Linked DNA regions of Homo sapiens: region 2 is linked to region 1. Evidence: fine-mapped expression QTL. A gene starts in region 1. The other region holds a variant in brackets. All regions are shown on one strand. Distances are between the middles of the regions.

Region 1 (4,397 bases):
TACTCTGCGGATATTGACAAAGCTGATCCCAACACTCCTGAGTCATACTAGGGATCCCAGCTCCTCCCCTTCAATTTTCTTACCATGTCTTTTTCCTTAGAAAGGTGTATTGAATTGTTTTTATATAGTCTATTGTACTCTATTAACTAGTAGTTAATTTTAGGTTCTAAGAATAAAATGTTATATAAGAACTATGTGTTATTATAATACTTTGATTTAGTTATACATATAAATACATATGTATATATGTACATATATGTGTATATATACACACACACACACACACATATAAATAATCTATTAGATGCTAAGCTGTAGGGGGTTAGCGGGAGACAATACATGGGAATGCTTTCTGGTGATTCTCTTCTCCAAAAGACAGTATGATTCCCAGGTATTAGATGTGTTAGTATCAGATAAAATATCCAGTGGAGCACATAAAATGAAGCAAGACTGAAAATGCACCATAGGAGAAATAAATTCTAAGAATGTAACACTTCGTTAGACAACTGGAAAGTACAAGGCCAATATGCTTAGTAGTTAGAAATGTTGCCCACCTCCAAGAAAACAAAGGATTGACCCGACATGCAGTGGAAGAATGCCAACAAGAAACTTGTTAATCAGTGGCTGATCTCATCTTCACCAGAAAATCTGCTTGAGAGGCATAATATAACGCTGTTTGTAAACCCTGATATCTGTCAAAAGTGCCCTAAGGTCCTCCTCTCTAGCTCCACCACTGCCCCTCACTTAAAAAAATAAAATTACCTTTAATGATAGGGTTTAACAAGCTGCCTTCTTTTTTTCTGTTATGAAAACCTCAACAGCAAATAATTTTTATTTCTTTTTATTAAAGAAAGCAACTCTATATTTGTTCTAAATCTCATGGGACCAGTTATTTTCACCCAAACGGCCAACCAGGTATATACGCTGCTTAACTGTAAACCTCCTTGTTTCTTAGCAGAGGCTTATCGCCATGGTCCAACTATGTTTTAAATTAAGGCATAGCCATCACATGCCAAGCTCTAGCTACTGTTTTCACGAGGAAAGGGCAATTATTCACCCCATCTGAGTGTGACTGTGCCAGACATCATTCAAGAGTGCACCACCCTGATCCCTAGACTCTTCCCCTTTATGCACCCAGTTCAGAGACCCTCCCTTCGGCCATTAGACCATCTGAGCTAAATATAGATCTACACACACCAGCAGTTCCTGACCGTCGTCACATGGTGCTGACGAAGGACTCCTTGGAGACGCGTTCGGCCCAAACACATACACAAATTTGTGTGCATATTCATCTATATACACCATATCCACCGAATTCATCAGGGAGGATGGACACATCTACATTCCGAAGAGAAAATCGCCGTCTAGACAATCTCCTTGTGTTATCTGCCACACTTGTGCCACCCTCGGCAGTGTCAGAGGATTAAGCTACGTTGCTTTTGCCTGAACTGCGCCGATTTGGTTGGGGCAAGACAGCAAGCAGTATTGAAATGGTACGTCCATACACACACACAAAGGCGCGCGCACCCCAGCCCCCGTCTCGCCCTTTTCCCTGGTGCAGCACTTAAGTTGTTTTCACAGCTCCCTTAGAAAGAACCTCCCTTAAGCTGACTGCCCGCGAGGCTCCTAGATACCTCTAGCTCATCTGAGATTCCCCAGGCAGGTGACCCGAGGCGACTCAACTGAGCTCTGGCAAAAGCAAGGCGACTCAGTGTCTCCCAAGTTTGCCAGGTGAACACCGAAGGATGACAGCACATCACCTTGTCGGTGGCGAGTATGTGACTTCTGTTCCCTTGTCCCTTCCTACGAGTCAGACTTTAGATTACATGGCACTGACAACAAAAATAAACAGCTCCCCCTACACACACACGCACACAAAACTGGTCAAGAAGTGGAAGAATCAACCTAGGTATGCACACGAAGGAAAGAAGGGATGAAAAAAATGATGGACGCGATTACAACTCAAGACAAATCCTCAAAAACCACCTATCTCGAGACAGAAGGCCTGGCTGCAGGATCAGGGAGAAAGAGGGAAGGCACAACCCAACCCAACCCAAGCCTGGCCCTGCCCGGGTCCCAGCGGCTCGGCCTCGCACCTGTTGGGGCCGCGGCAGTCCCAGGTACCCGCAGCGGCCGGGCAGGGGCCCTCCCCCGGTCCCGGGCTGTAACTCGGCTCTTGGCGCCCGCGTTCGCGCTCACTCGCCTCGGGATCTCCCGCCGCCTCGGAGCGCACCCGGCAGCCGGTGAAGTCTCTGAGCCCCGCTCGCTCCCCGCGCGGCCCAGGGATCTCCAGGGAGAGCGCAGCGCGCAGTAGGGTCCGGAGTTCCCGCTCCGGGCTGTGGTCCCCCAGCCGGGAGAACAACCCAGCCAGGGAACAACCTACCTGCAGGTGAACTCCGAGTCCTCGGCCTCCCGGCTGCGTGCCGCGCGCCCACAAATGCGACCAAAGGACAGGGAGCTAAAGCGCGCGGGAAGAAGAAAAACAAAATCTGTCTAACCAGTCGGGTTCCTTGTTTATACTGAAACTACGGCAGCCGCCGCCGCGCACGCCCCCCTTGGCTCAGGCGCCTGCCTCCCGCTGCCAGCCCCGCCCCGCCCCGGCAGGCGCGGGCCAATCACCGCGCAGCTCACCGCCCACGCCGCCGCCACCCGGCCCGGCAGGCAAGTCCCAGTGGGCCCCAGACTCCCGCAGCGCGTCAGCCTGGGTGCCCTCCCACGCGGCAGAGGCCCGCGGAGCCCAGCGCAGCGGTGTTTAACAGCGTTGGTCAGGCTGGCTCCGACTGTGCGCGTTTCCTCTTGAGTGCACCTGCCCCGGGCTGTTGTGCAGTCGTGAGTGTGTGTGTGTTCATTCACGTGTATACTATCTGTAAATACCGGCCCGACTCGTTACACAGTATTTATTAACATAATTGTGAGCTAAAGGTTACTGTCCATGTAACTTTCAGAAGAGAGCGGAGAGGAACCACAGAACATTTGCTTAGCAAATAACACATAGATCCTGGTGCTAAGCACTGTGCAAAACGCTGGGGGCACACTTGGCAAAGTAGGCTGGTCTCTGCCATTGTGAAACTTACATAGTCTAGTGGAGGACAGACATTCAGCAAATAATCACCCAAACAAAATGTAGAATTACAGCTGCTAGAAGTTGCACGGAGAGGAACCTGTTCCGTGAAACATGATTCCGGAGGCAAAGCAGGGAGGCTAGTCCTCAGTGAGGGCTGTGTTGTCATGGTAACCACGTACTCACTCCATCATGGGATATTTGATAACTATTTCAGAAAAAAGGTAAAAACCTCCGTACTTCACTTTGTACACATAAAAGGAGGCCAGAGGGAAATAATGATGGAAACAAGGGAAGAAAGAGACCTATGAAAAGAAAAAATTTACAGAATTAGGAGACTCTTACCAACTGTATTTCCTTGAGTAAGTGATACAGCTTTTCTGAGCTTCAGTTTTCTCATATATAAAACAACACTATTCATACCTGTCCTATACTGTTATAATTAAGATTACTGAGGGGGAGGAATCCTTTTCCCTCCTGCTCCATGGGTCCCTCCCCCTCTCCTTCCTGGGGTGGAGTCATTTTGACGCTCACTTTGTCTATTCTTAGCGGATTCCTCTTTCATTTTCTTCATTTATGCCTCCTTTTACTTTTCTTCCTCTTTATGATACTCCTTCCCTCCTTTGTGTAAATAGGACTCCTCTGATTCAGTAATTCACTCTAACCTACTTGAGCCTTTGACTTAACCATAGCTTCTCTGCAGTTTAAATGAGAAGCCATAAGGCCAAGGGAACTTGGTGGGCCAGCCATGCAGAGTGAAACACAGAGGCTGGGTGGCCCTGCCCTGCTGTTGTGGTTGTACTGGTTGGTTGATTTTTCAAGCTCAGTTTTTGCATCCCGATTCTGTAACAAACGAGCCATATGACATTGGGCCAGTCACTTACACCCTTGACATTACTGATCCTGTAGCCAGAAATTAAGAGTTGCAGGGGATTGCTGGCAAGATGGCTGAATAGGAACAGCTCCAGTCTGCAGCTCGTAGCGAGATTCACACAGAAAGCATGTGACTTCTGCATTTCCAACTGAGGTACCCAGTTCATCTCACTGGGACTGGTTGGACAGTGGGTGCAGCCCACGGGGAGTGAGCTGAAGCACGGTGGGGCATCGCCTCACCCGAGAAGTGCAAGGGGTTGGGGAATTTTCTCCTCTACCCAAGGGAAACCATGAGGGACTGAGCCTGAGGAACTCCAGCACAGATACTGTGCTTGTGCCAGTTTTCGCAACCCACAAACCAGGAGATTCCTTCCAGTGCCTACCCCACCAGGGCCCTGGGTTTCAAGCACAAAACTGGGTGGCCATTTGGGCAGACACCGAACTAGCTACAGGAGTTCTTTTT
Region 2 (4,397 bases), 41 kb after region 1:
ATAAAAAGTCACAGTAAATGTTAAGCTCCATGTTTGATTGACAGTCACCCACACACCCACATACACTAAAACTAGCAGCTATAAATTTGAAGCATTTGTAAGACCCAGGGGATTTCTAGAGTGTGTGACAATCCAGATATATGTGCCTCGTTTACCCACAGAAGCGGTCTCCTGTGGGGGAAATGTACTGTGACATCCATTTTGATAGGTAACAGGCACATTAAGATGGAATTACCTCAGCTGGAATATGACTGTGATAACAGGAATAGAGAAACACTGGACCAGAAAAACTACGGGGCATCCTTAGGGAACATGCTCAGTTCCCTTAAAAACATGTACAGTCATTTGTTCAGAATTGGCTGGGGGGAGTTGAAATGATCAATACCTCTTCCCAAGGTATCCGTGTATTCTGCAGACATATCTTCGGCAAATAATTGCTCAAAATATAACTGTCCAAGCAGTATTTGGCAAGTATTGGATCTGAAGTCTGATTCACTTCATAAATTTGCAACCTTAGTGACATGCAACACAAGCTAATTCACTATTCTTCTGCTTATTTTTCCATATATCCAATACTGAATAGTAAACAAAGTCTGTAAAGAGGGGCCTGAAGATGTTCATATTTATACCTATTCTAGGCACAATAGGATTTCTTTCCTTCTTAAAATATTAGGATAGGAACCAACAATAAGGATATATGGAAAGGAACAAAAAAATTATTCTACCCAAATGATGTTTCAGGAATATGCTGTAATTTTTTTAATTCTCACTTATTACTGGCAAAAGGCATATTTTGGAAGTTGCAAAAGTCAGAACCTGAGACACATAAATGATAAAAAGGTGTTATTGGTAAAGTATACTGAGACCATTGAGAGGCAGGTACTAAAATAAAATAGCACTCCTGTGAAGCGACATACAAATAGAATTTCTATTTAAAAAACAAATCCTCAGTCACTTCCCTTGTTTGCCAGACTTTTACAAATCCTCAGTTACTTCCCTTGTTTGCCAGACTTTTTCTTTCTCATGACTCCCTGTCTCTAATGTTATAATGGCCCCAATAATTAAAGCATTTGACCTCAGGAATCTACCCATTTGGATGGTGAGTATATTTCAATTATTATATTGAATTAAACTTTAGTTTGAGAAAGGCTTTCTGGGAAAGATGAGTCAAATTTAAGTAAGTATAAATTGGTCTTTTGGCCACCATGTTTCTTGGGATTATAATGTTCCCAAGATATTTAATAATCTCATTTGGGTCAACACTGCAATTGACTTGAATGGCAGAACTCCAAGGGAAGGTGCTATGCTGGGTTGGGCACTTAATGATGCTGCAGCTGTGTTTTCCCTCGAGAGAGTGGTCCATTATGGAAATGGAATCTCCAGAGTGGGATTTAAGTAGGGGTAGTCAAGACAACACTTTGCAATGTCAGTGAAGATCTGATTGACCGTTTGGGTGGAAGACAGGACACACACTGTAGCTGGGATAGTGGTAACATCCATTTCAGTGCAGATTACTGCATTCTCTCAAATTCCTGCTGTCATTCCAATTAAAATCAATAGTCTTCTTTCTTACCAATTCTCTCAAATGTGTAGGTTGCTGCAACCTGCCAAGAATGTATTAGATTTCCTTAATAAAGATAGATACATCACAGCAGTGGGTTAAGTGATACGGCTAACAGTTAATTCTTGCTTCATTAAGCCAAACCAAATAATTCTCATTTAAATGAAGAAACCCATCCTGCTTCCCGGTAACTATTTGGTATTGAAGCAGCAATGAAAACTCAGGCCATGTAAGCTTCACTTCTCTTTAGGGACTCCTAGGGCATTTCCACTAGTACCCCATGGAGAATGATAAACATTCAAAACAAAGTGATACTTGTCCAAGGAAATGCATAAAATAAGCTTTGTGAAACCTCTTCCTAGAGTTTGTGTTTTTAAAAAAATGTGTGTGTTCACTCTCTTGTTCAATCATGAAAATGTGAGAATCCTCCATGGGCCTCCCAGACATTAGTATGAATTAGAAAATCCTACTGAATAATCTCCACAAATCATCTCGTGCAAAGTGCCTGGGCTTTACAGACTAAGTGCACATTATACATATAAATCATTATCACTTTGGGGTTGATTAGAAAAGGGCAGGTATTTTGCAGTCCCGGCAGTGTGTGTATGCCTGTAGCAACTGATTAGCTATTTCAAATTAATAGCTTGAAATTAAAACAAGCCTGGGGTTAGAATAAAGGGAAATGGTTTTTCTATGTAAGGAAAGCTTCAGCCTCCTCAGAAAGCCCCCCCCTCCTCCCCCTCCCCCTTTCCCTTCCTCTTATTATGCAGCCTCCGAATGATGTCTGTCAGCTAGAGGAATTACATGTGTATGACTTAGCATGTGAGTTTCCAGATCTCACAGGCAGGAGAAATGATGGGAATAACTGGAAACAACCAAGATGTCAATAAAATGTATTTTTCTGTAGTCATCCCACAAAAAGGCCTTGAAAGTTTCTCAGGGGGAGTTTTCCTCCTGTGAGACAGGATGAACCCTCCCTCCCTCTGCTATAGCTCAGGAGATGC[G/A]GTTGGCCTCCCCCCAGCATGCCCACTACACAACACAGGTGTCCCCCATTCAGTGAGAAACCAAAGAGAAAGAAAAAGCTTAACAGAGAAAAAGATATTAAACAAATACTCTGTTTCCAGGGCAGCTGGGGGCACAGGAACAGGGAGAATGGGTAATGTGGTTGAGGTTTATAGGTAGAAAAAGGAACTGGGTTTTAATGAAAAAATTTTTTTTAATTTGCTTTTTTGCCATTTTGCCTTCTTAGTATACTGGGCCTAGGTTTTGTTTTGGAAAGTATTAGAAATCAAACTTGCACTATCTTACTTTGTCTTCTAAAGTTAAGCAAGAGAGAAATGAAGAAAAACAATGTGGATCTTTGAAAGACCCTTTTCCAGGCAATAGAAAATATACTTTGATATTCTTGCTGCCTCTCCAAAAAGTCTGGGAGCCTGAAGTTTGTCTAAACTCAGGATTTCTTAGTTAACTAACCTGGGCAAGGTTTTTATTTCCCTACTGACTTCATTTCCCTGATGATTCCCCTTATGTTTCCATATTTTATTTGATAATGATAAGCTGTCTTCTATGCAATTTTAATTTTATTTTAAAAGAAAGATGATAATGCCATTTTATAGGCAAAACTAATTTTTTCATGAAATTACCCACTAAGAATGCATAGTAACATACTCCTCAGTCTTAAAGATTGCTACCATTGCAAAATATTGAGTAAAAAGAGGGGAAAAAAAGAAATGCTTTGACATCAAACATCTGTTTTCAGATTCCAGCTCTGCCACACACTAGCCATGTGGCACTGGGCAAGTAACTTAGCTTTTGTGAACATCTGCTTCTTCATCTCTAAAAGGTAAGGTTAATAATAAATGCTTGGCAGCATTTTGTGAGGATTACTTTAGATAACAAATACCCATCATGGCAGATAGTATGTATCCATTTCCTTCATTCTCTGCCTCCCAATTTGAAAGTGCTTTCTGGAGATTCAGTCTAATTGGTATCCACAGTCCAGTCAGCTCTGTGGTAGGCATTAGGAGAAATGACAAGGAAGCAAAAAACCAAACCTAGGTCTCAAAAGAACAGTCCTTTGTTTGAGCAGACAAGATGTATGAATAAAATGCAACTGGGAAGCAAGTAGAGCACATACAGACAAGTTATTAGATGTTATGGTATAAACAGCAGATGCCAAGAAAGATTATGGGAATGAGATGGGTTTTATTTAGGTTTTTTTGATACACAGAATTTTAATTGGCATAAGCAAAACAGACCACTTTAAAAACAAATAAACTCAGGAGACTTCTTTAACTGAAAGAATATAGGTTAAGATTTGAAGGTAGAAATGAACAGAGCATATGTCTTCAAGAAACTGACCTACTTGGAATAGAGAGCTTCATTGGGGAAAATGGCTCAAAAAGAGTATATTGGGACCAGTCAACAAAGAGCCTTGAAGATTATCCTAACTAATAACATCTGATTTATGAGCCCTTCAGAAAAAGAACGACAGCAGAATTTTGGAGAGGTTATTGCTATCTAGGATGGACTGGAGACAAATTTTGGGTCAGAAACTCTGCTAGGGTCATGTGCATGGAGGTGAGTTAAGCTGTTTTGTGCTACTTGGATGCTTCTTTCTACAGTGTATGTTTCAAGCCATAGGCTCATTGTTTCACCAATTTTTCTATATAGATGGTTTGATCCATGTTCACTAAACTCAGGAGAGACTGGCTTATAAAAGCTAATTTAATAATATAGAAAATTACACATAATTATTAAGAGTAATGGGGTGTACATATATTAGGGAATTTAGCCTATCTAGTTTCTGTAACAAGAAACCCTTCTGGAAAAGTAA

What was found. PIP is the estimated chance that this variant, and not a neighbour inherited with it, causes the effect.
Region 2: its variant is the best candidate, but not a certain one, in a credible set for the expression of RASGEF1B in whole blood (TOPMed, PIP 0.74).

The regions. Positions count from the first base shown.
Region 1 is chr4:81,469,387-81,473,783 of GRCh38, forward strand. RASGEF1B (RasGEF domain family member 1B) reads right to left here and starts at 2,521. Exons shown (of 14, transcript NM_152545.3): 1 at 2,384-2,521. RefSeq lists a silencer at 2,453-2,862.
Region 2 is chr4:81,510,782-81,515,178 of GRCh38, forward strand. No RefSeq gene overlaps it. Among named protein-coding and RNA genes, the nearest start is that of RASGEF1B, 41 kb to the left of the region's middle. The variant G/A (reference allele first, on the strand shown) is at 2,566.